Linked DNA regions of Homo sapiens: all the other regions are reported to be linked to region 1. Evidence: microRNA targets listed by miRTarBase, many of them from high-throughput screens and not tested one by one. Region 1 holds a microRNA gene; each other region holds the end of a gene's coding sequence.

Region 1 (8,219 bases):
AGATTGCATCATTATGTCATCCTGTTTTGAGCATCATTCCTTTTTTATTTTCTAGTGGTTTCTATTTTATTGTTACTTTGTGATAACACACTAACATGCTATGTGTTGTATGTTAGCAGTAATATTATGTGCTTGTTTTTAGATTGTTCTGGATTTATCTTTTCAAGGTCAAAACATTTCAGTCTGCTTAAGAAGCTACTCTGTGGAGATTTTTTTTTCATAACTTCTATTTCTTTTTAATTCCCAGACATGTTTAAAATTCTAATCAGAGTGTGAAAGCCACATTCAAATATGATATAACACAGAGAATCAAAATCAATCATCTACCACAACTTTATCCCTATTTTATGATCCATCAACAAAAAGCTATTTTTGTAATCTCGTTAGATTTGCCAGCAATAATGACCTAAGATTAAAAATTGGGGAGGGCTTTTTTTTCATTTTCTCTTTTTCCCCTTGGGTAGTATGATTCACTCTGTGGGTACTGCACTTAAACAAGTATTCACACCCCCTCTGATCTGTTCTTGTCAGCTTTTTCATGTTAGTACAACAGGAAAGCACCCCATCAATCATTGTTTCTTCATCTATCAGTCAAAATGTTCATTTTGTGACTATTGGTCCTGCATCCCAATCTGTGACAATCTATGAGTGTATATTTAATTTAAAAAGAGCAATGTGGGAAGACACAACACTTTAAGTGAAGTTTGTAAATGAGAAGAGCTAAATTATCAGTTACTGTGTCAATGTTATTGATGGGTGGACTAGAAAAATACCTACTGGATGCAAAGTCGAGAAACTTACTGTAAGCCCTACCCCAGTCCCCTAAACCCATTTTGCTGCTGAATGCTGACACTTGAATAGTTTCTGATAGGCCAAGGTTTTTCGTATCACAAGGAGAAAGTAGATTTAAAAGGCAAAAATCCAAAGGAGAGAATACAAAAGGAAAAATATAGATCCTGTGGGCAGATTTTGGTAGAGTAATTAACAGAAACAGAGTGCTTAATGCCAATATGCTAAATACTAAATGCTAACCGAATAACTATAGGAGGTAGACTGAGGTGCCAAGATTGGAGACTGGTGTGGTAAAGGCCAGCTCCACTTGACAGTAAGAGTCGGATGTTAAACAACTTGCCATAGCTGCCTCCTGACTTCTTGGAGGTGTTTTTTTAGAATATAACTGTGGTCCTTTGGTCCACTATACCTAGGGACTTTTGGACTTCCTCCTGCCTACAATTGCGTGCAAAGGTCAAATAAACTGGCAAGGAACAAAATGTGAGACCACAAATGCAAAAATGGCACAACTGCACTACTGAAATAAATACGTTGAATCAATGAACTCTGATATTTCTGCATTAAAATGCAGCTTGCAACCACTAACTGCAAAGGAAAATATGAAGGGAAAATAAAGAGATGGTAACTAGGACCTAATATCTATATTACTAACTCAACTTCAGAAAGTTGGTATATTTTCAAAATTGCAGATATGTCTGCAACCTAAAGTATACTTCATAGCATTTAATTAATTAATTAATTTTGAAGTTTATTTTAGAGGCAGAATCTCACTCTGTTGTCCAGGCTGAAGTGCAGTGGTGCAACCGTAGCTTATTGCAGCCTGAAACTCCTGGCATCATGTCCCCCTTTTACCTCAGCCTCCTGAGTATCTGGAACTATAGGTATCCACTACCATGGTCGGCTAATTGTTTTTATTTTTTGTAGAAATAGGGTCTTCCTATGCTGTCCAGGATGGTCTCAAACTCCCGGCCTCAAGGGATTCTCTTGCCTTGGCCTGCCAAAGCACTGGGATTATAAGTGTGAGCTACCACGTCCAGCCCATAGCATTTTATTTTGAGGTTTAGGGACTAACGTGTGTATGATTTAGCAAGTGATGTTTAATGGCATTTTAAAATAATGGGTACCAAATAGAAACGTATGAATTGTTACTTGAATATAATTAAACTTTGTAAATTAATGGATTAGACTAGAAAGAAAAGATTCCAGAAATTTGAGGGGAAAAGGTAGGTTCTAGCACTGTCTCTTACATTTACATATTCTGTCTGTTTGGGCATGTTATTTTATCTTTTTGCATCGGTTTCCCTCTTAATGTATGGGTGAATATATAATAGTTGGAATTAAACCATAAATCAGTCAACTTCTAAGCTGTATACTATAAAAAACATTTGATGTAAATAATAAAACTCCTTGGAATCTGTCCCTCTTTGTGTCTCCATAACCTTCTATATTTGTTAGTTGAAATAATTATTTCTAAGTCTGAGGATTGTCCATTCAAGGTTGAACACTCAAGAAAACTGATTTATCTCTGTTCATCTCTACAAAGTCAGAATCGAAGAAGCATCATATCCTTTGGTTAAATTCAAGGTAGGGAAAAGAAAATCAAACCAATTCTACCAAAGAACAAATCAATTGATTTGATTATGAGTAGGTGGAGGTTACATTCTTTATCTTACTGAATTTGAGGTAAAATCGGTTAATCCTTTTATCCCCAATATTCATATTTAATCCAGAAAATGCTCTCTGGAACAAAAGTAATCATTACAAAATAAAGGCTTTATTCTACATTTTAGCAATAGTCTTTCCTTGGCTTATAAAAAATTAATTGCGGGGTATTCTCTTGATTGGGTACTTTAGATCCTGGTGACTGTTCTAACTGATGGGGCTGAAAGACAGTTCCCTTATCTCATAGCCAAATCACCTCCATGCAAATTGATCTGGGAGTGCCTTTAGAATAAACACAGCTGGATTCTCTGCAGCCATTTATGGGTCCAGTTTCCTAGGCTTAATTTTGATTTATAACTACTGAAATTAAATTAGCCATCTTCACTGCTTAAGGGTGGCTTTGATTTCACCAGTGCAGTAGGGAGACTATTTACCAACATATTTTATCAGTAACATTTCAACCTGGGTAAGGGGGTGGCGGTGGGGGGAAGGCATCTTATCTTTGGTATTTGTACTTGAGATTCCTTCAGAATATTTTAATTGTATTATTTACCGACAAATGTGAGGATTAGATTGTCAAATCAGACTCACATGAATTAAAGATCTTGCCCAGCATCAAGCTTTGCTAAATAATTTCAAGGATATAAGCTATCAAGTTCAGATAAGGTGCATCATATAACATAAAGTGGTGTACCTTATGTCATATGCTCCAGGTAGCCCTGCCTCATAGATCCTGGGTTCTATTAACTATGGGTAATCCCTTAGCCAGAGACATCTTGCTAGGGACAGAGATATAGTCTCTTATTCATAGTAAGTAACATTAGTCTATTTCCATTTGACAAAGAGATTAGACTAAGTCTTTGCTTTCCTCTAGGAGCACAAATTATTGTACAAAACGAGAAACAAAATTTGAGAGATTAAAATATGTGAAATATGTTAATAGTTCTAAGAAGGCTTTTATCTAGAACACGGTAATAAATGTCGACGTGCTATAGTAGGAAGAGTTGAAGATAAATGGTTAGATATCGCTTTTTATCCATATGACTTTGTGCATTAGTTTTTTGAGCCTCAGTTTTACTAATATTCCAAAGGATTAGGGAAATAAGCCTAACCAGAGTGACTCTGATTTTTTTTTTTTTTTTTTTGAGATGGAGCTTCGCTCTTTCACTCAGGCTGGAGTGCAGTGGCACAATCTTGGCTCACTGCAACCTCTGCCCTCCAGCTTCAAGCGATTCTTCTGTCTCAGCCTCCCAAGCAGCTGGGATTACAGGCGCCCACCACCATGCTTGGCTAATTTTTGTATTTTTAGCAGAGATGGGGTTTCACCATGTTGGGCAGGCTGGTCTTGAACTCCTGACCTCAGGTGATCCATCCGCCTCAGCCTCCGAAAGTGCTAGGATTACAGGCAAGAGCCACCACACCCAGTCGACTATGGAAATTTTAAAAGACAGTACATATACGTGTGTGTGTGTGTGTGTGTGTGTGTGTGTGTGTGTGTATGTATACACATATGCTATATACACACACACACACACGTATATCACAGAACTGAAGACCATAAAATGTTCTATACATATGAAAAAATGAGAATTTGAAATGTACATAATTCTTCACACAGATAGCTGACAGTGTTATAAATCTCCTTTCTTATAAATAAGAAAAACAGTCTCAGAAGTAAGTAATATTCTGATGGAGAGTTAGAAAAGAAAACCTGTCTTACAACTCTTTAAACATGCTTCTCCTCTAAGCTAAATCATAGTTTGCTAAAGAAGGTCGTGATAAGGTAGAAGAAAGACAAGAAAAGCCAAGGCAATGGGGTGAAGCAGGCGGAGAAAACTGTTTATGCCTCTTCTTCCAATGTCTATTTATTTTCTTTGTGGTTCTGAGCAACTATTTCTTCTTTTATCTTGCAACTGTCAAAGCAGCTCTCTGTAGAGAAACCAGCAAGCACACCCATTAAAACCAAAGCATGAATTTTCGGGTGAGGATCAGTGAGGCTCTCTTAAGAATACCTGAATTTTCACAGAGATAAACATATTTATTTGATTTAAATGGTAGAAAGTGTTAATTACTAAGTTTCATATACTACCAGGAGTCATAGAGAAGTCATTTTGGAGACCAAGAGTATATTCCTAGACCATGTAATCACATCATTTGAGTAGCTGCTTACTGAGTTTATTCACAATGAAAGCCTGATACATAAATTCTTTAAACAGAAACCAGTGGCATTGTTAATTTCCACTTTTGTTTCCAAATTGTTGCTTTTGTCTCATTGAGAGCATATTACTTACTTCAAGCACCTTAACAAACAAAGCTGGGTCATACACAAACGTCCTACTGTACCAGCAATAAGACAATATGAATACCCTGCAACCTCTCAACAACCAGAAGACAAAGATGTATTTGGAAGGGGCAGATGGGAAGTGAAAAAGAGAAATAAAATATACTTTACAGGGAATATTTTGCACACGTAATTCTGAGTGTTATATTTTTAGCTTGTATAAATAAACTTCATTAGTCTTCATTTTGAATATACAGGAAAAGTTTTTTTAGAAAAGACTCATTGTCACAAGCTGATAAGGTAAGTTAGGACAGTATATGATTAATATGCTACAATGATGTCTAAGAGAGAGGATGCTCATTAAATTTGTGTGTGACAAAAGTTGGAAAGAGTGTTAAGACCTTGAAATACTGGAGCATCTTTCAAAGTGAAACTTGACAAGTTAGAGAAATGGTCAGATAGAGAAATGGATTTTAATCAGACTGAAAGGAAAATTAATGTATTGGTTTTGTCAGTTGTACCTTCATCTTGAACGTAATGACTGCCTGTTACTTCCTCTGTGGTTTCATCCGAACCTAACGCGACACTCCCCTGAAAGGTCTCCTCTCTCCCTTCCTTGCTCTTCTGTAGCCCATGCTTCACTTCTCAACTATGGTGATGTTTTGAAGATGTGAATTAGATTACATCATTCTTTTCTTCAAATCCTCAAATAATATTTAGAATATAATTCAAATCCTGGGTTGCCATGGTCTACAAGGCCTCAAATAAAATAGGTTCTGCCCACATCTTTGTTTCATTTTCTTTCTTTTCTCTGCCTCCAGGTTGGCACTTTTGTTCCTTTAACTCTTCAATTTACCTTGGTGCTTTGTACCAGCTGTTCCCCCAAAGTAGACAGCTCTCCATAGCTCTTCACACGGCTGCACTTCCTGCTACTCTCACTTAAAGTCACTGCCTTGAGCCAATTTCGTTAATCTGGCTCTAAATAACAACACAACCCCATCTACACTACAGTTCATCCTAATACCAGTCTAATTTTCTTCATAACACCTATCATTATCTGAAATCATCTTAGTTGTTTCACTTTAGAATCCTCCTTCTCTCATGAGAAAGTAAACATTGTGCGGGCAGGGTCATGGTCTTGTTTGTCCTGTACTTCCCACCCGTACAGCAGTGCTGGCACTTAGTAGGTGCTCAGTAGATATTCGTTGACAGTATAAGACAGAAGTCCTCAAATGTTGTCCAAGGACATTTGGTAGTCCCTGAGACTTTCGGGAGGGCCAAGGGCCAAAATCTTTTTCATCATCTCACAAATATACAACGGTGCTGTCTAGAGGCCAAAGGATATATGCTATCACAAAAGATTGCCTGCAGAAGTAGTTGTGAGAATCTAGCTCTCTTAAGCCAAACATCAAAGAGATTGTCAATAATGTAAAATAAGTCACTCTTCTCACAAAATTATCTTAGTGTTGGAATATAATTATTTTTCATAAAAGTACACAATTTATTTTAACATGCAACATGCAATGTGGTGGCTATTTTAAAATGAATTAATAAATATATAAATGTTTTCTCAGTCAATTCTCAATAGAGTAAACACTAATACATATACATAACCTATACAACAAACATAAACTTCTCAGAGGTTTTCAATACATTTAAAAAGTAAAAAGGGATCTTGAATCCAAAAATGTGAAAACCACTGAAACAGAATCTCATCAACTAGTCTCCATTATTCCCTAGAAAACATCCAGTAGAACTTTCTTCTCCAGTTAAAATTGCCCTCAAAGAAGGTTTTCTCTTTCCTGATATCCATGCTTTTGCTATTCATTGTTTATGAAATGTCTGTCTGTTTCTCTCTTTCTCATTTCTCCATGTTTGAAGTACACTTTAAAGCTGTCCAAAGTAGTCTTTTCCATGAAATTTGACTCATAGCTCTACCACAAAAAGTTCTCTCTATATATACCTTTAGAGCATTAAGAACCTATACTACCAATTGACAATAGTATTGTTAATTATCTTCTCAAAGTGCCTGTAAATCTCTCTAAAGGCAGAAACCTCTCTAAAGACAGAGACTGTCAGACAGTCATGGTGCAGCCTGTATGTACCATGCAGGAAACACAAAATGATAGCAGGATCTAGCCTCCAACAAACTCTTTTCTCTTAAAACCTAGTATGGGATGATAAAGATTAAATGGAAACAAAAGCATTGGTTAGCTATCCACCCAAAAATTAATATTCTGGCAATATTCACACCTTATAACTTTTGGGATTCACCACCCAAGGTAGACAGAATCCTCACCACCACCAGCAAAGAAGTCCAAATCCTAATTTCCAGATCCTGTGAATATGTCCTTAAGACGTAATTAATGTTATAGATCTAGAAACAGAGGAATGATCCAGGATTATCTGAGTGGATCAACTCATTGCATGAGTTCTTCAAAGCAGGAGCTTTGTTTGGAGCAGGAGAGAAGTGGCAGAAGGGGAAGTCAGAGACATCTGAAGCATGAGAGGGACTTCACTTCCCACTGCTTGAAGACAGAGGAAGGGGCACCTGGAAAGCATGAAATGGAATGAGGGCAGCCTCCAACCAAAATCCAGGCCCCCTGCTGACAGCCAACAAGGAAACTGGACCTTAGGCCCACAACCAGAAGGGAGTGAATTTAGTCAAAAAACCCGAATGGCTTGAAGCAGACTTAGCCTCAGAACTTCCAGAAAGGAACATGGCCCTGCCAACACCTTGCCTTTGGCCCAAGCAGAGGACCTACCCTAGACACATGATACTCAGACTTCTGACCTACAGAAGTGTGAAATAATAAATGTAGTCTGTTATAAGCCATTGTTGGCTATTTTTACAGCAACCATAGGAAAGTAATAAAGCACTCATGGCATGTTCAATTCCAATAGCCCTTGCAGCAGACACACAAAACCACCAACTTCCTCTAAGCTCCAAGTACTGCACTCTGTCCACTCACCCTGCTGCCTTCTTTAACTTACAAATTATGCACACAGTAGGTATGTTTGCATAATTAAAAGATAAGTAGAAGAACTAATAGTCTTTAAAAAAAATTGTTCCTTTAGTTGTTCTGAATATATGTTTGTCCTTTGATAAAGGACTCTTTGCAAGGTTTCCGTATGACACTTTATTCTTAAAATTTTTGAGCAGTTAATTTAAAAGTGAATCCAAATGGATATCCAAATCTAAAGTCATCTAAACTGTTAGTAGTGTCAAATGAGATTGCTCCACCACAAGCTCCATTTGGAAAAGTAACCAGCACCTGACCTACAGCTGAGTTCCATGTAATTTAGTTGTCAAAGTGATGGAGCACAACTCTTCCATTTAATTTCTATGACATCTGTATCAACTTGACTGTATCCTTTGCTGGGCCAATGGCAATTTTTCTGGACAAGATATGGTGTAAATGGCAGGGCCAAAACACAGGAGAAAAAAAATGTAGGTGAAATTTTAAAAATAAGATAAAAGATC
Region 2 (8,219 bases), not on the chromosome of region 1:
AATTGTTCAATACTGTAGGAGATTTAGAGCCTACCCCAAGTTTTTGTCACTAGAAATTCTCTATTTAAAAAAAAAAAATGGGCCAGGCAGTGTGTGTGTCATGCCTGTAATCCCAGCGCTTTGGTAGGCCGAGGCAGGAAGATTGCTTGAGCTCAGGAGTTTGAGACCAGCCTGGACAACCTAAGGAGACCTTGTCTGTACTAGAAATAAAAAAAATTAAGTTAGGCATGGTAGCACGTGCCTGTGGCCCCTAGAGCTACTTGGGAGGCTGAGGTGGGAGGACCGCTTGAGCCCAGTAGATCAAGGCTGCAGTGAGCTATAATGGCACCGCTGCACTCCGGCCTGGGTGACACAGTGAGACCTTGTCTCAAAAAAACAAAATCCACACACACACACTCTCTCTCTCTCTCTTGCTCTCTCTCTCTCTCACACACACACACACACACATATATGGGGGATCTCTGCACATAGGTTCCCTCTTTTAATTAAAGATTAAAAAAAATTTTTTTTTGAGGCGGAGTTTTGCTCTTGTTGTCCAGGCCAGAATGCAATGGCACGATCTCAGCTCACTGCAACCTCTGCCTCCTGGGTTCAAGCGGTTCTCCTGCCTCAGCCTCCCGAGTAGCCAGGATTATAGGCATGTGCCACCATGCTAGGCTAATTTTGTATTTTTAGTAGAGACGAGGTTTCTTCATGTTGATCAGGCTGGTCTCAAACTCCTGACCTCAGGTGATCCGCCCGCCTCAGCCTCCCGAAGTGCTGGGATTACAGGCATGAGCCACTGCACGCGGCCCAAGCATTTTTTTTTTTTTAATAGAGAAAGGTCTTGAAAATGGTATATCAAACAGTCCCATTTCTCCCTCAGTCAGAATTGATAATTTATCAACATTTTATATGTACATTTTTAAAAAAATGAATATTATCTCTTCACCAAGACGTTAGGAAAGTTCTTGCCATTCCTAATGGGTTTAGCCATTATTTTGCCCAAAACACTTAGATGTTATAACTTAAAGACTTTCTTGGAGTCAATTCATTTACTTATTCATGGTTGACTATCTCTGATTTTCTTATATTTTGTAATTTAACTTCTCATTCTTTTAGAAATGAAATGGTAGGGAAAAAGAGGAAAATTAAAAATCTCTCTGCTTTTTATTTTTTGCCAACGTTTAAAATTATTGAATAGAAAAAAAAGTTGAGAATTTTTCATATTTTTTTTCATTGCCACACATGAGCAGATAATTGAGTTATAGAGTCAGCTGAGACCTTAAGCAAAGTCATAGTGCTCCTGTAGCTTCAGCCTGGAATCTCCCTGTAGAGCTGGCCTCAGAATACTTGATGGGGAACCCTTTTCTAGGATGAGTGCTATTTATACCTTTCTGGATCTCTTTTTGAGGGTTTATGATTTGCTCCATAATTGAATTACACTCTGTAGTGCATATTGTCATTTACTTGAACTTTCTAAAACCTTCATTTGAGGTTAATTGTAAACCTGTGTACCTTAGGATATGAAGGAGGGTACAGGTTGTTCTTTGTTTCTACTCCATTGAGGTAAGTTGGAGAATGTTAATATTTAATATGTTAGGACAAAAGATTTTTGTTTCTAGTTTTTGTTATGACATCATATTCTTTCATGATAAACAGCCACTGCCTTTGTCCTGTGAGCCATTACAGAAGGCTGTTGTGTTTTGCCTCAGGTAATAGAGTAGGATAGAAAGTAAAAGTTGGGGTTGAGTAATAGGATGATAATGTGTTTTGTTTTCTTTCTCAGTTTCCTTCTGTACTGAACAGTCATGGGCCATTCACTCTGTCTGGGCTGGATGGACCTTCCACCCCTGGCCCATTTTCCCCAGACCTACAGAAGACATAACCTATGCACTTGTGGAATGAGAGAACCGAGGAACGAAGAAACAGACATTCAACATGATTGCATTTGAAGTGAGCAATTGATAGTTCTACAATGCTGATAATAGACTATTGTGATTTTTGCCATTCCCCATTGAAAACATCTTTTTAGGATTCTCTTTGAATAGGACTCAAGTTGGACTATATGTATAAAAATGCCTTAATTGGAGTCTAAACTCCACCTCCCTCTGTCTTTTCCTTTTCTTTTTCTTTCCTTCCTTCCTTTTCTTTTCTCCTTTAAAAATATTTTGAGCTTTGTGCTGAAGAAGTTTTTGGTGGGCTTTAGTGACTGTGCTTTGCAAAAGCAATTAAGAACAAAGTTACTCCTTCTGGCTATTGGGACCCTTTGGCCAGGAAAAATTATGCTTAGAATCTATTATTTAAAGAAATATTTGTGAAATGAATTGGCATCTTTAGGACTAAGTGTGCTCTGTTGAATGACTTAAAGTGAGCTGTTCCTAAGCAGTGGAAGAAGAAGAATCATTCCTATTCATACAAAGTAAGATTGGAGCAGTCATACTGGGGAGATTGTTTTGTGTGAACTATAACGTGTAAGCAACTCCATGAAAAGGCATCTTGTTTACCTTTATTCAGGGTGGATCTCTTAGCCATATGTATGATCCTGTCTGAACCTGTCAACAGAGCATGGAGCTAGTCTATTTCACTATAGAAAGATTTTTAGACCTGGGGTTTAAGACAGTTTTTGGAACACCTAGTAAGAATATGGGACCTCACATCTAGCACAGAAATGCTCTTTGCCCTCTGGGTGGTATGATTATATGCCCATGGAATACAGCATGGGAAATGATCACTTTTAGGAGGATGAACTTGGATTTTGAATATTTGAAACATCTCTGAGTAAAAGATTCGATCAGATAACTTGAAACAACATGTAGTGGTTTTCTCAATTAGAAGATAACCAAGTGAAGGACCTGTCTTTTTCCTGTTCATTTTACCTCATTTTCTACTATACATTTATCACCTTTCCTTTATGTTTAAGGTTGTTAGAGGTTATGATAGTTTTAAAGATGCAGTTAGGAAGGTAGAATTCAAAGTGAAGCCTCCCCAGTCAGGAGCGAAGATGTGCTTATTTCCTTTTTTTTTTTTTTTTTTTTTTTTTGAGACAGAGTCTTGCTCTATCACCCAGGCTGGAGTGCAGTGGCGCGATCTCAGCTCACTGTAAGCTCCGCCTCCCGGGTTCAAGCAATTCTCCTGCCTCAGCCTCCTGAGTAGCTGGGACTACAGGCATGCGCCACTACGCCTGGCTAATTTTTGTATTTTTAGTAGAGACGGGGTTTCACCATGTTGGCCAGGATGGTCTTGATCTCTTGACCTTGTGATCCGCCCACCTCAGCCTCCCAAAGGCGCAGGCTCAGATGTGCTTATTTCTTTCAACTTTTTTTTTTTAAATGGGGAAGAGCAGAGTTCATTTGGGAATGCTTATACATAGGGATTGGATTGTTCATATTAGTAGTAAAAAATGTAGGCCTTATTCTCTACATTACCAAATTTTTAAAATATTACTATATGGTAATCAATGCCAGGTACAGATTTGTTGGTTCCCCAAACTGAATTGATATCAGTATCACAGTGGAGTCTTTTGAAAATTAAAGTCCAGGATTAAATTATATGTTGTCACCATTCACCACCACTACCACCCTCCCCCACCAATCTCTCCCACCGGTTAAACTCGTCTTCTAATCCTGTAGAATCACATGAACTAAATGAAGAAGTAAGAACTTGAAGGCTCAGACTGACACTGTTACAAACTAGCATCTTCAGATGCATGGTATTTACTTTAAATGTGCTTATATACAGTGTAGAGAAGCTCTTGTATAAGAAGACATCTATGCTAGCTAACTTAGTAGTAGTAGAGGGAACATATTCAGTGAGCTGCCTTTATATCTGTAGTGTCGGAGACTTGTTACTGGTTCATTTGTGGTTATCAGTTGAAGGTTCTGTTCCTGAGATGTGCAATAGTAGTGTTGAAAGGTATTGTTTAATAGTGATGGGGAACAGACATATTGGACTTTTTTTTCCATATTAAATTATTTAGTTTGCATGCCTGTTTGAAATTGGACCTCTCAGCAGCACTTTGAAATAGTTTTAATTAGGTTAACATTTTGTACATTAAATAAGTAGATATAGATGGTTGATTTAACTAGATGTGTTAAATTTTGAAAGCACAAAGGTATTTTATCTTTTTGAATTAAAGGAGAAAAGCCATTGATTTGTTTTCACAGACAGTATTTTTAATAATTAACTGTCTCAGCACAGAGGTACCTTGGAACCAAGGGCACCATTGAAACTCAGTTGAAGCAACTTCCTAGTAAACCATTTTAGTGAGTCCTTTTTGCATAAATCTATAGCCTCTCAGAGGTGTGAGGCTGTCACAGATTGGTGATCTGCTATCTCTTTGAGATCAACTAATTTGGAGAAGTGTGTGTGTGCGTATCCTTTTTTAAGTCAAAGTTTACAACCTTACTGCAGGTGTATGAGGCAGACAGTTCTGTTTATAGACTACCTCCTTCCTGGAAAAGTCTCAGCTTCATATTCTGTTGAATATATGCAGAATTCTTAGTGTGAAAGGTGATGTACCACTTCAGATCAGTTTTCACTGGAGAGACTTGTAATTGGTAGCTGTAGCTCGTATCCATCCCTAGTCACTTTGCCAGGATGAATGCTGTTGGGCAGCAGTAGCCTAAGTTACGGAAGGGGAGCAGATTGAATGGGGTTTTGAGACATCTTCTCTGATACCTTAGCTTTCCTTCTGCTCTGGTCGCTATCCACTCAGTCGTGTGCTAGAAATGTTTAACAACCAGGATCTCTGGGGTGGGGGTGGGGGGGAGCGCTGAATTTGTAGCATTTGCTGCAAATATAAATTATAAATAAAATTCTAATATAAATTAGAATTTTATATCAAATTCTTTGATATAAATTAGTTACTCCTCCTGTGGCTGATTTCAAGCTACCACCTTAGAGTTCAGAAAGGATGTGCACAGTTGGCTCAGAGCCAGTGCTGGCAAACCATTGCATTTACTCCACCCAAGAGTGGATTTTCACATAATTTCTAAAATAATTTTTTCTTATTTATATACTGACTTTTCAAAATACAAAATTAAAATATCATGTCTGACTTCAGTGATCTTTTTCTTTTTCTTTTTTTAGAAATGAGATCTTTCAGTAATCCTTTAATTTAATTTTTTAGAGATGGAGTCTTGGTGTGTTACCCAGGGTGGACTCAAACTCCCGGGCTCAAGTGATCCTCCTGCCTCAGCCTCCTGCATAGCTGGGCTACAGGCATGCACCACCACACCTGGCTTAGTAATCCTTCTTTATTAATGGTTTGTCACAGTACGTTTGTGATGTTATATTGCTCATGGCATACTTTATGTGTTCGAACAAAGGTGGAAATTTCCATTGATTTTTTTTTTTTTAAATGTATGCACAAACAATCTGGATTTTGAGGAGTACGGTCAGGAAAAAAAAAAAAGAATTAGAGGCCCTTGAAAGGTCAACCGTAAGCTTCTTAGAGTTAAAATATGAGTTTAATTTTTTCCCACATTTTGACAGTTGAAATTTTGATAGGGACAGTAAACCTATGAGCCTCTATTAGGCTACTGGATTTTTTTTAACTGGAAAATTCCTTGAAGATTTACATACTATATTACAGATTTTAAAAGTCAAGACTGACTTAAGTAAATCAGAGGTTTGGAATTCTGGAGCTGTAACTCCAGGCTGTTGATAGTATCACTTCAGTTCCATTCACCCCTGCATTGTGTGACGTCCAGTCTGACAACATTGTTTCATCCTGATCTGACTTTCTACTATGATTCTTAAGTTCTTAAAGGTGTCCTTTTATGTTTTTGGTGAATGTAAGCACATTTAGAGCCACTCAGTACCACTTCTCAATACCTCTGAAGCAGTGGTTCAGAAAAGGAGTGTCCAGCCTTTTTGAACACACAAATTGATCAGTAAGAGTTATTGAACATAAAAACTTTCCCTATTAAAAATTCATATGGGTATATGTTAAATTATATACCGCTATACCAAAGTAATATGTGTGTTATAAAAAAATACACAAAAATTGAAGTGAAGGATGGCATAAAAAGTAATTCTTGAGTAGCAGTTATAGTATTTTCTTCCCACACCCCAGTTGGTTGTCTTGTGCACCCTCCAGAAGCACACGCTTTTCCTAAAGACTGCTGACTCAGGATATTCTCATTCTAATCTCCAAACATATATGATGCTCTCTTATGATATATGGAGAAATCCTAGAGATTTGGAGTTTTTCAGGAGAGCTTATTGTCAACTTTTGAAATTTCACATTAATTCTTTTTGATAAATTCCCAAATAATAATCCATTACCACATGTTTTCCACAGCTTTATTCCTATTACTTTCGTCAGCCTGTTGTCTCTTATCTTCATGTTAGGTATGACTCTATTTTTATTTTACTAGTCTGCTCACAGACTTCTTTGGGACTTATGTTATATTTTACCAACAAATTTAGAATTATTTCAAGTTGCTTTATGTTAAAATATATAACAAGTTACATTTTCTTGCTGCATTAATAAGTTTTTGATTTTTAAAATCTGATATTTCAGCAACTAAAGGAATACTTTTCTTTATAGGTCTGTTCTGTTTTTAACCTCATTGACTGTATATGTTTTATTTACCCGTGCCAGGAGTCTAGAATCGTGCTTAGGTGCCATTCTTAGGTATGAAAACAAGTTTGGAGACCAATGCAGGTCTCTGTGCAGAAATCTGGGGCTCTAAATGAATTACCAAACCAATAGGAAAGTTAAAATACTACTCATGATGTAGTGTGTCATCTGAAGCTATGATAGAATATATTATTTCTAAAATAGTATTGAGAAGTTAATTGTTCAGTCCATAGTAGTGTAAGTGAAGTGTGGAGGTCAGCCATAGTTGTCTTTCTTCAGCAGGTACTCTAACCAGAGACTGGGTTCTGTGGAAAATAGAATTATATTCTTGGTTTGGGATCAACAAATGTTTTGTTATTGTTTTAATGTTGCTGGCATTGCCTGAAACAAAGTGCCCTGTTATTCCTCTTATGTCATCAGAACTCTGCTTACTGAAGTTGAAGTTTAATCTTAGGATCTAGAATTCTTGTGGTTGGTCGTGTATTAAGAAAAGAAGGTGGTTTGATTTTATTTCTTGTACTTGGTGGAACCTGTTACTATACAAGTCATGTTTTGACCTGTAAGCCGAGCAAATCTGAAAGGTGAATCGTTAATGGTAGTATAATTGTTTCATTTGAAACTGTCAGTTTCTTCAAGTCACTTCTCTGAAAAAAATTATGATAGATTGATAGCCTGCCAGAAAATAGCAATTTCTAAGGTGCTGCCATCCACACTTACTTATTGTGAAATATGAAAATCCAGAGTGGTTTGTATGAGAGGGGAAATACTGGCTCTAAGCTTTCTACAGAAAACAGGAAATTCATGCTGTTGTTGACATAATTTTAAAGGAAACTTTTAACAAGAAAATTCATGAGGGATACAATCAAACATAGTTAATCTCTTGAGTGCTAATCATTTGAGTATAGTCCACATCAGGAAGTTTTATGAGGTTGAAAACTTTACTTTGAAATATTTAATTGGGAGACTAGACCATTTCTTTTTCCAAGTCATTCTGATTTATTGTCCTAGTAAATGTATGTGTATGCATATATACTGATGTATTGACTGAATGTGTGTGTGTGTGTGTGTGCGCGTGTAAATCTGTTTTCATAGGGAACATACATTGATGGCTCCTAGTCTATTTTATACTAAAACTTAAAAAAATTTGCTGCACTTTGCAGTTGCCACTTTTTAAAAGATTAATGCTTTGCACATTTCAGTAGGCCTTAAAGATGAATTGCTCACCAACATTTTAGAAATACACTGCTTACATGTGACATACTCTAAACAAAGTCATAGTAAACTGTTCTCTTAGGTTCATGTATTATTGAGCAAATAAGGATGTCCTTTCTTAAAATTTCTACATTTATGTTTGCTTTTGTGTAAAATCTTTATTAGTTTGTAAGTTTCTCAAAGAGGAGGTTTATACTGGAAGCAGTATTTCTAAAGTACAGAGATTCGACCATGGATTGAATACAGTAGTGGAGGAATGCTGGTATTGTGGCCTAATTTATCCTTTTAAACTGTATGTCATTAGTATTAGCCAAAACCTCAGAGTGGAGTGTCTTGGGCTGAATGATCTTCTCAACTTTGCCTTGTTTCCCATCTCATAAAGGCTCCTTCTGGTTCTTTTCCCTTCCAAGGATTGTGAGTCATGCTCACATAGGCCTGG
Region 3 (8,219 bases), not on the chromosome of region 1:
CAAATTTGGTGCAAAACCACCATGCGATCTATTCCCTACTCAGGATTCCAAGCCTCCCAGAAGGTGGTCTAGCTTCCCTGAGACATGCTTTTTGTTTTCATCATTGCCTACTAAAGTCAAAGTGACCAGTATGTGCAGAGACTTATGTTTTCTCAAAAGACACTTCCACATCCTTTCTTTCACTTGATCACTTATACATCAGATATTCCATTACACAGTTCTATTAATCAACTTTGCTACAGTGCACGACAATTTTCCACCCATGATTTTACTCAGCTCCTATAGTTTAAAATACAAAGTGGGTCTTATTATATCAGCTCTACATAGGGACCTGAGGCTCTGAGATAAGTAAGTAGCTTGTTTTACTTTAAATACCAGACTTGACACTTATTATTACTTTTGGCAAATTCTTATTCCTTTCTGAGCTTCAGTTTCCCCATCAATAAAAGGGTGATTGTTGCAGCATCTGTCTTATAGAGTTGTCAAAAGTGTTTTCTTGTTTGGAAATCACTGAGTACATTGCCTTACCCCATAGCAAATGCCTGACCCATAGCAAGTGCCTCTGCAAATGAAAACTGCTGTGATTATGATCATGGTGTGCTCGATAAAAGTTATCACCAGGATAGCAAGAAGCAGAGCCATAACTTGAACTTGAACCTTCTGCTCCTCAAATCCAGTGATTGTATCCCTGCGCTGCACTGCCTTTCTGATCATTACTGCTTCAGACCAAATCACCTGATTCACTTCTTCTTTCTGCAGGTCACCCCATTCCCTATGTCCTGTGATCTACAAGGTGACTGTGCTTGTCGGGACCCCCAGGCCCAAGAACACAGCCGGAAAGACCTCCGGGGATACAGCCATGGCTAAGGAAGGACAAGAAGTTGTCAAAGAATTCCCAACGCCAGGACCCACATCCCTTTGGTATTGATTTCACAGTCAGCTGCTCAACGGAATGGCCTCTCCACACCAGGGATCCTTAGCACCCAACCGGTCTGCCTTTAATTTTACCCAGGAAGGACTCACATTGGGGCGAATGAACCAAGTTTCGCCATGCTGGATGATGAAATGGATTCCCATCCCAAAGTCTGAGATGGATTGCATATACAGTGTGCAGTCCCAGAGCCTCCTAAAATTCTAGCCATTTGTCACACAACCACAGCAAGAAACGTGTTCTATATCTAGAGTGTGCCCATCTGTGTTTAGTACACATGCATGCATACACACCCATACAAACATCTGTGTGAGGGCAGTTCTGGAGATGAGCAGAGAGAGACCGGAATAAACTCAATCTTTTCTTTCCCAAGCTCCTAGCCAACACTATCCTTGGGAGAAAGAAATTTGCAGAAACTGCTAAGACCAAGTGTGGAGATGTCAAGCTAGTTCACACTCTGAGGCTCAGAATATGTAGGACATGCACAATTGTGCAGTCCTTTGGGATTGGAAGTGAAACAGTCTGTGATCCCCTACCTTCTAGGGAACTAGGACCTAGGAAGAGGTAAAGATTATCAGGTATGCAAAGCGCCCCAATTCTTCTGCTGCCATGGGGGATTTTACCCCAACTCCAGGGTTCGAGGCCAATCTGAGAATGGCTTAGGATTGCAATGTCAAGGTATTATATCAGCCCCTTGCTTGAGGCTTGAGGTCATAATATCCCTCTAGGACTTACCTGTTCCCCCAGATCTTGCCTTGGGACCACATTTGCTGCTACTTTTCCTGCTGCTCTATCCTATACATTGAATAATCCAAGATGGTAGAACTAGGTTAGGAAAAATTCCACACAACCAAACAGTCTGCCTTAAAAGTGACCCACATTTTTCCATAGCTCCTCACTTTTTAGCCCTTCTGCAAGAGAAAAACCCTCATGGGTCCACATGGTGAGAAGTTAAGTTTCCTGTAAGTGGGCCTCTCACCCTGGAAAGGAGTTGAGGGACATCAGATGCTGGAACCCTCACTGAAAGTCCAGAATGTCTAAGCCAGTGTTAGATTTTGTAAACAAGTGGAACAGTGTTAAATTTCTATGATGTTGGAGCCATCCAGAGACTACTGGAATTGTCGAGACTTTTGGATTATTATCCTTATCCTTATCCTAATCTTCCTAGCCCTTCAGGCTAGAGTAGGCTTTGATCCTGAGAACCTTGCTGTTGCTCTGAGGAGATATAATTCTGGGAGAAAGAATCTTTTATAAGAACAGTACAGATTGTTCTCAAGAGGGCCATCAGAAGGAAGCCAAAGAGTTCACAGCCTCAGCACCAACAACTCAACATGGTCATCATGTTTTCTATATGGTTTTTCCAGCTAGCAGTACTCCCTTCCATACCTGTGACTGGGCAGTGCTTTTCTCTCTCCCATGTCTAGCCTCCAAAAGTTAAGTGAAAATTAGTCAACTGCACGTGGAAGCCCCCACCACTTTGGGGATCTCTTTATTTCTTTTCAGCCAGGGACCTGTCCACTCCCTTTGAATTAATATGGGAAGAAATTAATACAGGATGAACTGGAGAGAAGGGTTGAGTGTGGCATACTTTCTGAAACCTGGAGCTGGGAATTGCGGAGAAGGGAAGGTCTAGACTAGTTACATCACATAGGGATTACTGTAAATCAAGTCATCTCAAGTCTAGTGAAGACAGCCAACAGAAACAAAACCTAGCATAGGGATAGAAAATACCATGCACGTGTGCAGCCCCACCTAATTCCTGCATCCAAGGCAGGTGTTGTTAATCTATCATAGCACTTAAAAAAAAAAAAAAAAAGAGACCAAAAATAACTTTAGGAACCACCATATTATATCACTCCCAATAGCACTGACCTGGTGATCAAAAACACTTGAGAAGACATCTATTGGCCATCTCTGGCCAATTACACTAAGAAACATATCAAGGTGCTTTTGGCACAGGTGCCCACAAATACGGATGCAGTGCTGAGATAGTTTATGAGACTTGTACCATTTCACAAACTCTGAAATTGGGTTCCATATTGGCAAGGCTGCCACAGTTGTTAAGAATAATCCTCTATGTTTCTTCCTCACAAAACCATATCTCATTTATATCCAGACCATTACTTCACTATAATTACAAGGACAAATTATTAGCAAGAAATAAGAATAGTATTAGAAGAATTGATCCTATTTTGAACCCCTCTCCAGTATCTTCACACTCTTGTCAACTCTCCAGGCCTCTCTCTTGCCCTGAGTTATCAGCCTGTGTGGTGTTAACTACCTTAGAAGGTACAAGCTAAGAAATGTAACAGTATCAACCCTCCCAGTTGCTTAATTATACCCATAGGTAATACAAAAAGCTCTGAAGACCCAAAGATGACATTACTAATGATGTGATTTCAGGAGCCACAGAAGAACCTTACCAGCTTCCCTCAAATCAGTCCTTATCCTCTTTCTATCTTCACTCCCATCATCATCTATTTTCACACTATCCAGCTAAGCAAAGATTCCTGGAGGCTGACTTGTATCTTCAGACTCACAGAGTGAATTCAGCTCTTCTGAATCAAGACCCACCCAGTCTCTTTCATTCAGACCTGTTGCTAACAAATTTATATTTGCCAAGGATATTAGGCAAAAGAGGCTACTTGATTGGTGGCCAACCTCGTGCCCACATGGAAGGTATCTTTAATAGGGTCTTTTCAAACCTTAGTGGAGGAGGGTCAGCTCAATTTGGGCAATGCATTTGTTCCCAGTTTCATTTTCTTCCTGGGAATTAACTCGTCATTTCATTCCTTCAGTCATCTTCTGTGTAGGTGACCGGAGCACTGAGAGGCAGCTCTGATGCACTATTGTGTGTCAGCAGCTCAAAGGCCCTAAAACACTGAAGGTTCTGCATCTGAAGTATTAGATTGTTAGCAGCAAAATATGAAAGATGAGGTGGACAGTCCTCTAAGCCCTATTTAGGGAAGCTTTTCCAAGCCACAATCTTAACTACCTACCCAAAGGATTTGCATTACCCCCAGATTCTGTGCCAACAACCTTTTAAGGAAATACAGTCCTTGGGAAATGAGTTTTGATGGTGAATTGGGGTGTTAAGGAAGGGAAAGATTGTCATAGATGGTAGGGCTTTGAAAATGCAGGGTATCAGCTGCCACTCCTGGCTTCAACACATTGAGTCACTGCCTAGACGGTTCTCTTGGTCTTATTCCCATCCTGGCCAATGCTTAAATACTATTTGTTGAAAATAATTCTTTGAGACAGATTTCAGCTACCTCCCTTCCAGGTTCGATTTAACTTGGTTGTAATTGTCAATTTGTTGTTATAGGTCTTACCTGTGTGAAAGAAAGAAAAAGAAAGAAAGAAAGAAAGAGAAAGGAAATTATAAGGTCAAGTTAACAGTTTTGAGGTTTTGTGTTTTTTTCTGGAACTACTTCAAGTGAGAAAATAAAAAAAAATGGTGACAAAGCTGTACAGATAGAGATAATAGAAGACAAAGAGATTAAAAGGAAATAAAAATGCATGATTAAAAACTAAGAATAAAAAACCTATTTTTATGTTTCCTAAAGGAAATTGTTTATTCTACAGCCTCAGTAGGTAGACACAAACATAAAGATTTCCCTAGAAGACATAGAGTGGGATTTGATAACACTGTCTGTTATTTTCTGTACATTGTGGTAGGTCCAGGAAATATGACATTTTCCCCCTTGATGTGTTATTGTTGTTGTTGGGTGGGGTGGGCATTTTGTTTATTTGTTTGGTGGCAATCAGTGGTAGTAGGGAGTGGGAGGGCTTATATTGGTTTTTCCAGCTATTAAGGGGACATATTGTGTCGTTGTGCTTTTCACGTTATAAAATGTTTATATTTACCAGTACAGCACTGGGCTTTATAAAGACTGCACTCAGAACCACACTGCACAGTCCAGTTTTTTAAAAAGCTGCTACATGACAGACAGGTAATCCCACTGAGTGAGTTTTGAGAAACAAATCAAACGAAGTAAACAAGAAACATAAAAACCAAATAGCAAATGAATAAAAGCCTGTTCTTGTAACTTATTCAACTTTTGCCAAATTCCTACCAATCACTTGCTTTTTAAAAGAAATGTATAATAGCCAAAAGAGAAATTATGTCCCTGTTGTACAGAAGTTAGAATTTTTGACTCCAGGCAGCAGTTTGCTCAGTGATCTTGAACAAGTTATCCAATTGCCTCTACATTTGCATCAGTTTCTCTAGCTGCAAAATGGGGATAATACTATATACCTACCTCACAGTGGGAGGGCAGGAGATTTTGAGGCCCTGAGGTTTTAGGTGGGCTGTGAGGGCCAACGCTTGACACAAAGTCCATGGGTTATTATTCAAGAATGCACAGGCCCATCGGCCTTTTAGAAAGACAAGACAGGGAGTGCTTGTTTGATATTTCAAGGAATAAAGCCGGAGCTCCTGAATTGTAGTCCACCTTAAAAGAGAGACCTGTATTGGAGAATATTTTATTTTTTTGGCAAATTTGATCTTACCCTTTACCAGTTCTATAATTTGGTTAAAAGCTGATTATGTCCTACAATGTCAAAGTCAGCTAACTGTCGTCTACTTAAGACTTCTGGTCATTTCCAACTTATAGAGGAAGGGAGTCTCTAAAATCTCTTCTTCAGAAGGCACCTCACTTCTCAGACTTAAAATTCCACATCAAGTGTTCCATTAAAAGAAGATAAGGCATTCTGAGTGCAAACAAATGGGGGCTTCTTAAACTACACACCAGCAGTCAGTGAGGAAAACTTTGAACAATTATTGAGTTGCTTTCTTGGGTCTCTATAATCAATAACCTGTCTGCAGATATCTATCTATATAAAGATATTATATATAAATATAAATTTACATATATATGCACATGTATATATAGTTGTACATATATGTGTGTATATATATACTTAAATGTAATATTTACAAAATAAAACTGTGATCTCGTCTAGAGAAAATGTATTCATATTACAAACTGCTCTTCCATATTTATGTACCATATTATACCTTTTTATTATTGTTATAATTATTATGGGTATTTCTAATTAATATGATGTTGAAACCTGTTTGGCACCTTCTGGAAGCTACCAAAAAAATGACACTCCATTGAAGTGCTTAAAAGCTGTTCTCATAAGAATTCTTCTGGCCTATTGTAAAAAAGAAAAAAAAAAAGAAAAAGAAGAAAGACACAAAGAAAATAATCTAAACACCAAAAACTAAACACAATTCCAATCCTTTTTCTGTACCTCACGCGCATAAATTTGCTGCTCCTATTTTTTTTTCTGTTTATGTGTTTTTATGGATCTAAGTTAAATCTTTTGGCAATATATAAAAATGTAAATAGTAAACTTTATTTATTAAGAATGTCATCTTTTTTAATTTATATTTACACAATTGTTCATCTAATTTATTTTTTCTATACAGTTTTAAATACTCAGACATATTTTGCTGTTCATGATATTTTTATCCTGTTCTCATGGATTTGTTTTCCCATACTGTTTTCTCTGATCTCAATTACAGGTTGGATCTCACAAATAATAATGTCAGAGACAGAAATATTTTGCCACTGTTGATTACTATACTTTAAAGTTCTATATTATGAAAATATATAATAGCTTGTACGCTTCAGTGTGTTGTTGTGTGGTTTTTGTGTGTTGCGGAATGATAAAGGGCTGTCATATATACACGCTAACATGGAGAGAGCCCTGGGGCCTGGAATTAGACAATCAATGATAGAACAAGATTTTATCCAATATATATCGATTCCTCTACAAAATTAATTCCTGAAAGTATCTAATTTTGCATATGCAAAAACTGAAAAACTTTCTTACATGTTATAAGAAAGTTCTGGGGAGCTAAAGCATATGTCACTCTTGGTTATATATTGCCTTTTGCACACAGCCTTTAATAATATACTTCCAGATGTAAACACTGGTATGGTCCAAAGACACAAACCAGTGCAGTGGTTCCCAAGTGCTAAGCTGTGGATCAGAGCTAGTTCATAACTAAGTTTTCATTTGTCTAAGGCAAAATGTGGGGTCAATTGTTCATTCTTGTGGAGTTCTATCTTTTAAGATGAACTCTTTCTTACTCTTCCGGTATTAAAATGTCATATTTTATATACATATATACACACAATATATGCATATGCAGGCTCATATATACATATATATATATATATATGTATCTCCACACACACACACACACACACACACACACATATATATAATTTTACATATGTGAAAATGAGCCTGCAGCTGGAACTGAAATGTTGCTGCTTTCAATCTGTCTAGTGTATCTCACTGTTCATCTTATCACTAGGTAGTAGCTATGAGATTTTTAGAAAATTATTTAATGGCTTTAAGATTTAGTTTTCCCATATGTGATATGGAAATAATAAAAGTATTTCATAAGGTTTTTGCTAGAATTAAATGAGATAAATATGCAAAGTGTTTAGAACAGTGCTGAACATATTATATTATCTCATTATGAGTAGTATGAGACCAGAATTACTTATGACAAGTAATAATACACTAATTTTTCTGATATCTACTTATTTTATAAGATAATAGAAACAAAATGCATGAATCATTCAAGAGCTTGCACAGGCATTTTATGTAGTAAATTTATTAGCACTGTCCACTGAGCTGCTAGCTGGCAGTACCACCATAAGGCAGGTCAAAATATGTGTTTATCTGCTGATAACTACATTTTGAATTTTTCACAAAAAGGCTGTGTGGGAACATCAATGTGAATTATGTGTAAGGGCAGGGATAGGGAAGTCAAGAACTACTCATAGTGGGGTGGCTTTTTTTTGGACTCTAAAAATATAACTCATGGAGAAACATTAGGGAGACTACTAAAAAAGAAAAAAAAAGTCATTGCTAAATTCTTCCAGATAACTGGTTATTTTCAAAGTAAAATAATTGACAAAAGAAAAATATTTTACACAGTTCTATTCAATGTGAAGATTGAAACAACATTTAGACAATAGGCTCCTGAAAAGAGGCAAATATTTCTCAAACAGAAAGATTAAAAGATGAGAGTTTTAATGTGGCTTTTTATATTCCTTGGTTTCGTCTGAAGAGACAAAAAGTCATGGGGCAAAGAGCTTCCTACTTCAAGATGAAAGATCTTTATCCCAGTATCTTCTTCCATCTTTCTCCAGCCCTAAACACACACACACATGGACACACACGCACGCACATACACGTACACAGACACACACACAGAGTAATGGAGAGCTCACTGGACTTTATTAATCTGTCAAATGGG
Region 4 (8,219 bases), not on the chromosome of region 1:
CCACAGACTGAGTGGGTAAACAAATTTTTATTTATTTATTTAGAGATGGAGTCTCGCTCTGTTGCCAGGCTGTAGTGCAATGCTGCAATCTCGGCTCACTGCAACCTCTGCCTCCCAGGTTCAAGCGATTCTCCTGCCTCAGCCTCCCAAATAGCTGGCACTATAGGCACATGCCACCATACCCAGTTAATTTTTATATTTTTAGTAGAGACGGGGTTTCACCATGTTGGCCAGGATGGTCTTGATCTCTTGACCTCGTGATCCGCCCACCTGGGATTACAGGTGTGAGCGACCATGCCTGGCCCAGAAATTTATTTTTTTTATCACATTTCTGGAAGCTAGAAGTCCTGAGATGAAGGTGATTTCTTTTGAGGCTTCTCTCCTTGGCTTGTAGATGGCTGCCTTCTTCCTTTGTCTTTAGATGGTCTTTCCTATATGTGTCTCTCCTCTTCTTATCAGGGCCCCAACTATATTCAATTAGGGCCCACCCATATGACCTCATTTTACCTTAATTACCTCTTTAAAGGCCCTGTCGCCAAATACTGGCATGTTCTGAGGTACTGGATTAGGACTTCAGCATCATGCACATTTTGAAGGGACATAATTCAGCCCGTAACATTTTGCTTTGTATGTTGTGAATTTTCCATAATGAAAAGTTTTTGTAAGTTTTGTAAATATAAATGAGATCATATTACTCCAATCTATAATCTCCCTGCCCCCACCTTCCAATAACTTTCCATCTACCTGCTTTGGGGAATTCACAGAGGTTTATCACCTAGTAGTTAATGAATTCTGTAATTTTTCTGTGACTTTAAAGGGAAGATATGGCCTGGGCATGTAGGCCCAAAGTTATTTATATGTATTAACATGTTGTTTATTCATGATAGTTTGAAAGTTTTGTGCCTTGTTTTTGCCAACATAATTAAAAGCCAAAAGTACTGTTTGTTTTTAAAAAATCTATTTCATATAAAAGCCAGATTCTCTTCTTCCTTTCAAAATTGACTCTTAGCAGTTCCATATATTTATGATACTGTCAGAAATATTAGCTGATTATCACAATTCATTGTCTTAATGATCTCAGAAAAAAATTAAGAAACCGATTTCTCTTTCCAGCCTCCATCAAGAAATCGGCGAGAGAGAGCTGAGCTAAGGCCAGACTTCTTTGACTCTGCAGCTATCATAGAAGATGATTCAGTAAATGTCAAATTATTACTGCTTTTTATTTATGGTTCCTGGGTCCTGTTTATGCATGAAATTAATAATTATGTTTCTCATCATTTTTCTAGGGATTTGGAATGCCTATGTTCTGAAGTCTGAAGAAAATTTACAAATCTGGAACTCTATTATTTAGAGCTAGAGGCCTATATACTGTGATAGCTTGTATGGGGAAAAACACTTTTGATGTGATCTGATTTGTTTTTTAATCAAATGATTAAGGTCAATCCCTTTTTGCAGTGACAGAAGAGGAGCATGTAAATTACCCAAGGGAATGTTGGTGAATGTCAACTCAGAAAGACTGACCTGAAAATCATTTGTGTCCTACTATTGGACTTATCCCAATACAGATGTGTGTGTTTTTCTGGAGGGAGGAAGAAATTTTAAATTTTTAAAACAGCTGTCAAGATAAACACTGTTATACACCTGTTTTATGAAAACTCAACATTGAGTAAAAAAAAACATATTTTTAACTTTATTTTCCTGTTGTACAATTTAAAAACCGTTTTAACATTTTGCCTTTTTATGTTTTAAAAGCTAACCATTTTTATTAAACCTATGAGTAAGCAGCTCATCCTAATTGCGAAGAGTGTTTTGGAGTTCACTGGATTTGGTTGACCTTTGTGGAACACAAATAATGAAGGAGCAGAACATTGACAAGCTAAGATGAAATTCTGACATAGTACATCTCTGCCAAAAACCACACACCCTCTGTGGATATGGATATGAATTCCCAGATTTTATATACTCTTGAATAAAAGGTTTATTTTTATTTATAAGTGGGCATAAAATAAGAAATGTCCATGCAGCCATTTTTCCAACAGATGCTGTACACCGTTCATTTTATATAGACTAGGGAGATTCAAATACAGTGCATTTTCTATTGGTATTTGTTCTGTGCATTTTTAGCAACTTCTACCAGCAAATAAAGTATTCTCAGTAAAACGAAAATGATTCTCAAGTTATCAGTTTGCTGTTTTTACCACTTATTTCATGCCCTGCCAAATTCAAGTTACACAGACTTCCATTTTCTTAAGATAATCAATCATGAAGAAATCCTTTATCAATCATTCAAAAGTAATTTTAAGTGTAACATAACTGTGTTTACTTCCCATGCACTTAATACCCTTATGCGCTAATTTTGTGAATTAAGTTTACTGATTATAGAAGTATGTGCTGCATAGAAGTCTGTGCTTAGAGGGTGAAGTTCCTAAGCTTACCTTGAATTACAGCTACATTTCAGTGTTAAATGTGCATATTAAGAATAATTCTTTTGGGGAAAGAAATTATGAATCTTCAGGACAGTCTACAATGGTTTAGAGTTACATTCTGCCTAGACTTTTATGACTTGCTGCTATTGTTTTAAAAACCCCACTTAGTCTCTCTCTTCCTTTCTGATTTCTAAAGTAAGCCTCAGAATTTCCAAACCAATTCATCCACAGCTGTTTCTGGGCTGGTTTTTAAAGTAGCTGCAACAGAATCATGAGGCTTTCCCTTTTTATCAAATACGAAAAACATTTTTTAAAATTCTGCACACCCAGTGATCATCTTTTGTGCGGGAAAGCAAGATGATGATGGATGATTTTATTCATCCTTTTAGTAAAGACACAAAACATTTTTCTCAACATTTGTACAGTTCTGAAAAAAACCTGGTCACCAAAAATATCTTCTCTGCTAATTCAGCAATTCTTGGGCTCCAGTTAGGGGAGCTGGGGCCTCACTTTCTCCCAGAATTGTGGGCTTCACTGGAAGTGAAGGTGCAGGAATGACTGGACTGTCCACCCCAGCCCTGCCTGCCTGTGGTTTTGGCCAGGGAGCAAGCCATGAGGTGCCCTGGCACATGCACAAATTGATCCTTTGCGTGACAGTCTTGTATGGAAAACAGATGCTGACAGAATTGTAGACTACCATGCCACACAAAAAGGCTAAATATCTACTCCAATGGGTTTCCAGTTCAGTTTGAAGTCAATCAAATTTTTGTATTTTCGGTGTCTCCTTGATTGGTTTTGCTAGTAATTCTGTAAATTGTACATTTGCAATATGAGGTTTTTTTTCCTTTTGTACAATTTGAAACTGATGCTTCACCTTTCCTTTAATAAACTATTCAAAATCAGGCTTGTGGTAGTCATCCTATTGTTTCTACCAGGTATGGCTTTAAAGAGATGATTTTCTGTCCTGTGGCTCTTGAGAGAGTTTGCAATTTCTGATAATCTGTTAAATGGCAGCAAGTTAACCTTATTAGTGAGTTGGTGGTTTTGTTGTTTTGGCTTTTTAATTTTTTTTAAGAAAGCAGAATTTAGGAATAGCTCACTTTCTTTCATTCCTTAGATTTCTCTGGAGTGTGTGTAGGCCAAGTCATCTGTGGTTTAAGAGGGAGTCTCTTGCAAACTGAGTTTTGCATGAGGCATTCAGGGAACACCCATCCACTGGCCTGTAGCATGGGTCCTCACGGCTTGAGACTCTGGGCTTACATGCATAATTGCACCCTGGCAGTGCCCTTTTGAAGACCACATAGAGTCAATGCAGCTACAGAAATGAAGTTTTCAGCCAGGCATGGTGGCTCACGCCTGTAATCCCAGCACTTTGGAAGGCCAAGGTGAGTGGATCACTTGAGCTCAAGAGTTCGAGACCAGCCTGGGTAGCATGGTAAAACTCCTCTACAAAAAATACAAAAATTAGCTGCGTATGATGGCGCACACCAGCTACTCGTGAGGCTAAGGTAGGAGGATGGCTTGAGCCCACAAGGTGGAGGTTGTTGCAGTGAGCCAAGATTGCACCACTACTGCACTCCAATCTAGGTAACAGAGCCAGACTGTCTTAAAAAGTTTCTCTTGGCATTAGACCTCCTCACTCTTTCTTTAAGAAGTCATACCCTACACACTTCATGGGTCTGGCAATAGGGGGTGAGTTCCTTAAATGGCCTAATATGCCTATGCAAAAAAGGCAAAGGTGTGGGAGACAAATCAGCAAGCAAGCTTTCCAGACAGCCAAGGAAGGAAGGTCATTTAAGGATGGTCTGTAACAGCTCATCTAGATGGTTACAAGAGTATGAGACTAGATGAGCACTTTCAGGCTTGGGTCAGGCTTGCAAATCTCCCATTTGTGGCTTGACTGTAACTCCCTGTTTGCCCCTGTTCCCAGGTAACAGTCCATCAAGCAGGGACTAGTATATTCATGGGAAACAAAGGTTTGATGCCACTCAGGCTTGCCTTTTTTTTTTCGGGGGGGGGGGGGGGGCGGTAAGTGAAGACAGGGTCTCGGTCTGTCACCCAGGCTGGAGTACAATGGTGTGATCTCAGCTCACAGCAACCTCCGCCTCTGGGGTTCAAGAGATTCTCCTGCCTCAGGCTCTCAAGTAGCTGGAATTACAGGCACCCACCACCACGCCCAGCTAAGTTTTGTATTTTTAGTAGAGACAGGCTTTCACCATGTTGCCCAGGCCGGTCATGAACTGAGCTCAAGCAATCCACCTGCCTTGGCCTCCCAAAGTGCTGGGATTACAGGGCATGGGCCATCGCACCCAGCCTTAGGCTTTTCATACTAGACCAAGCTCAGGTAAGATTCTATCCCTGCCCTTCTGAGTGTCTTGTTCTGTGGAGATCTCCATCAGGCACCACTTTTTGAAGAGCATCTTTCTGCTCCCAAGGACACATAAAGGGAGTATTTTCACCACCCAGGACAGTAGGGACATGGTCAAAACTTAACTAACTATTGAGGCTGCCACATTGGCTGGAATATGCCAGCTGGATTCCACAGAGGCCCCAGACTGAGGCACTGCCTATCAAGTGGCTGCAACTCCTGCTTGGAATTGTAGAAATCCCATGCTGACATCAGAGGTGCACAGAGTATGAGGACCAATACTTCTAAAAGGGTAAAGTCATAGCTCTCCAGAAATCCTTTGGAACCAGAAAGACAAAACAGTCACATCTGTTGAATAGGTGAAGAGGGCTGATTCATCAACTCCACATGTGGGTGAGTATCCTTCACAGACTTCTTTGGCTGAGCAGACCACATCTTAAGCACCAGCACCAGGACAAAGTATCAGTGCAACCAGAGGCAGAAAGTTGGGCTGGGGAGACCAAGACAGGGTCAAAAAAAGAAGCTAGAAGAACTTTGCAACAAAAGCACTTTCTAACAAGCATTAGAAGGGTGTATTGTGGATGTGCTCCCCATTACTCTAGCAACTCAAAAAGATGACTGGCCATCTGTTGGTACTGCTTTGCAAGAGAATCATGCGGGAGATAGGAAAGCTGTCTAAATGTAGTAGCTTTCTGGGTTAAGACAAGCCCAGGGGAACAGACCACCAACCTCCCTCACCCCTACTCTTAGGCCAACCCTTAGAAGTCCATCTCACCTTCCTCATCAGCTGAGTGGTAGTACTTTGAAATGATCAGAACACAGGCTTGGCTGGGGTCAAACCCATCTGAGTTCAAATCCCAGCTTCACCACTTGTCAGCTGTGTAGCTCAGGAGGAACTGGATTAACACAAGGCGGGGCAGGACCAGCAAGACCCTAGCAGTGCTTCCTACACCACAGCTCACCATATTATCTGCTCTCAGTTTAAAGACAGACACTTGTCAGCTATCAGCTCAGTGGACCCAAGTATTTCCCATTTACAAAATTCAGTGTATTTTCTTTTTCCCTTTAAGGTGAGGGCACCAGCTGGGGAAGGCATTCCCACACAAGAGAACACTCAACTGTCATTACTCTCAAGGTATTCCGTGGTCCATGGAGGCTGGTCCACTTGACAAAGCTTCCAAGGTCTTGTGGCTTTGAGTTTCTTTGACCAGCTGAGTTTCTGTACGGGAGTTTCCCCACCATCCAAGGCTTCCGTAAAGCTGCTAGCCCAGCTGCTCTCCTGAGCTGGTTCCTCTACCATCTTACAGCCCCTCTACCATCTCGGTGTCCAGACTGCACAACCTGGTGAAACACTTCTTGGACTCTTACCTCCAAAAAGAAAAAAAAGAGCTTGTATGTACTCTTTTATGGACCATAGCAGAGATCACGAAAACAAGAACTGTGGGCTCAGAAAACTCACTAGGCAAGCAAGGGAGGGACAGACTGTCCAGGACCACCTACGTGGGCTAAGGACTCTGGAGAACAGGGAGCTCTGGAAGTGGCGCTGGAGCAGAGGAATGCAACAAAATCTGGATCTGGAGTTAGTATGGTAGCTGAGAACAGGACTTCCAGCTCAGTGGGAGGCCACAGAGATCAGTGAAGAGACTGCTGCAAAAGTCCTCAGAGCCCAACTAGGATTGGTGACTGAAGGAGAGTGGAAAGATGCTTTAAGAAAAAAAAAAAAAAAAAAAAAAAAAGAATGACTCTTAAGGGCTACTGGGAATGGGGGGTAGGGGAAAATATTTTTGAAATGGGAAAAGTGGAGAATAAACAGTCACACATTAAGTTGACCTTGAAATAATGATTCACTGTCCAAGCAGTGCTTACAGATCTCTGGAGCCAAGGGAAAGCCATCAGTAGTGGGAGGGCCCTGGGGTTTCACCAGAGAGGATGCCTGAGGTGGGGGGGCATCTTGGATCAGCACTCCATGGTTGGTACTTCTGCTCAAACTTAATCTCCAGTTCGGTAAAACTATTAATGTTTTAACTTAGTAAAATCAAGTCAACAGTGTAGGAGGAAAGGCTTTAAAGTGGTTTACAAACAAAAAGGACTAATTCATATTGATAACCACTCAGTTACTAATTGAGGTAGCTTAACCATGTATCTTCAGTTTAAAGACAAAATGAACTACAAAGAAGTCGTGAACTTTAGAAGGTTTATTGTTGATAGAGCTGTAGTGATTCTGAAACTTGTATTTATGGTAGCACTGAGCAAATGAGTGAAATATATTGAGAATAATGGGAGCCAGGGTTATTACTGCTGTGGTAAGAGAGACAATACAGAATGGGGGAAGGCAAAGAAGCACCCATGGTGTTGGATTAAAAGTTTCAGTATGAACTCATGATTTAAAAGTATGATAAATATGTATTCATATATACATGTGTCCCACATATATATACACACACTTATTTGCATAAATTTTCCTAGTTCTGTCTGCTGAAATGCCTCAAAGCAATGATATCCAGTATCAGTGTGAATACCTAGTGCCAATTTTAGCTTCTAAATGACATACCTACTAAAAGAAACTAAGAAACTACTATATACTACTACTACATACCTATTAAAGAAACTCCTTGGAGAAACTGCTGATTCCTGGGCTGGGCAAGGAAAATACAAGATAAGCCTAGAGCATTATCTTGTCAGAAAATAACGAAATACTAAAAAAATCAGTGGGATATATTAAAAGCACTTTGGGAGGCTGAGGCGGGCAGATCACGAAATCAAGAGATCGAGACCATCCTGGCCAATATGGTGAAACCCCGTCTCTACTAAAAATACAAAAATTAGCTGGGCATGGTGGCACACACCTGTAGTCCCAGCTACTCGGGAGGCTGAGGCAGGAGAATTGCTTGAACCTGGGAGGCAGAGGTTGCAGTGAGTCGAGATTGCGCCACCGCACTCCAGCCTGGCGACAGAGCGAGACTCCTTCTCAAAAAATAAATAAATAAAATAAAATAAATCAAGTCCAAAATGATACTAAGAAAACAAAAACAGGAGAAAAGAAAGCTCCCTTCCTTACCTAGAGTTCCAACTAATAAATATGAGAGAGTTAGAAACTCAACATTTTATAATCAATGCAGAATCATTGATTGAGGCAAAAATCATCAATGAATACTAAAATTATTGGGTGAAAGTTTATTTATTTAATTTTCTGAGACAGAATCTAGCTTTGTCACCCAGGCTGGAGCACAGTGGTGTGATCTCGGCTCACTGCAACCTCCGCCTCCCAGGTTCAAGCGATTCTCCTGCCTCAGCCTCCTGAGTAGCTGGGCATGTGCCTCCACATCCGGCTAATTTTTGTATTTTTAGTAGAGATGGGGTTTCACCATGTTGGCCAGGATGGTCTCAAACTCCTGACCTAAGGTGATCTGCCCACTTTGGCCTCC

What was found. Region 1 holds the annotated microRNA hsa-miR-8485 (CACACACACACACACACGUAU, at 3,911-3,931, opposite strand). A microRNA usually pairs through its seed, bases 2 to 8, with sites in the 3' UTR of a target mRNA and lowers its output. Matches are read on the target gene's strand: a 7mer-m8 pairs with bases 2 to 8, a 7mer-A1 pairs with bases 2 to 7 and ends in A, and an 8mer does both.
Region 2: the mRNA of ELK4 is a reported target of hsa-miR-8485. Seed matches in the 3' UTR shown: 7mer-m8 at 4,343-4,349, 7mer-m8 at 4,345-4,351, 7mer-m8 at 5,963-5,969, 7mer-m8 at 7,618-7,624, 7mer-m8 at 7,620-7,626, 7mer-m8 at 7,622-7,628 and 4 more.
Region 3: miRTarBase lists PAPPA as a target of hsa-miR-8485. Seed matches in the 3' UTR shown: 7mer-m8 at 3,782-3,788 and 8mer at 5,838-5,845.
Region 4: the mRNA of STAG1 is a reported target of hsa-miR-8485. Seed matches in the 3' UTR shown: 7mer-m8 at 1,567-1,573 and 7mer-m8 at 1,569-1,575.

What each region holds. Positions count from the first base shown.
Region 1 is chr2:50,692,262-50,700,480 of GRCh38, forward strand. It overlaps MIR8485 (microRNA 8485), which reads right to left and starts at 4,001; the gene lies at 3,911-4,001. All of the region lies in intron 5 of NRXN1 (neurexin 1), which reads right to left.
Region 2 is chr1:205,610,194-205,618,412 of GRCh38, reverse strand. ELK4 (ETS transcription factor ELK4) reads left to right here. Exons shown (of 5, transcript NM_001973.4): 5 at 1,769-8,219. The coding sequence ends at 1,867. Among named protein-coding and RNA genes, the nearest start is that of ELK4, 18 kb to the left of the region's middle.
Region 3 is chr9:116,395,750-116,403,968 of GRCh38, forward strand. PAPPA (pappalysin 1) reads left to right here. Exons shown (of 22, transcript NM_002581.5): 22 at 760-6,572. The coding sequence ends at 867. It overlaps PAPPA-AS1 (PAPPA antisense RNA 1), which reads right to left and starts at 4,857. Exons shown (of 1, transcript NR_103711.1): 1 at 2,408-4,857. RefSeq lists an enhancer at 1-186.
Region 4 is chr3:136,331,345-136,339,563 of GRCh38, reverse strand. STAG1 (STAG1 cohesin complex component) reads left to right here. Exons shown (of 34, transcript NM_005862.3): 33 at 1,114-1,194; 34 at 1,287-3,328. The coding sequence ends at 1,310. Among named protein-coding and RNA genes, the nearest start is that of PCCB, 85 kb to the right of the region's middle.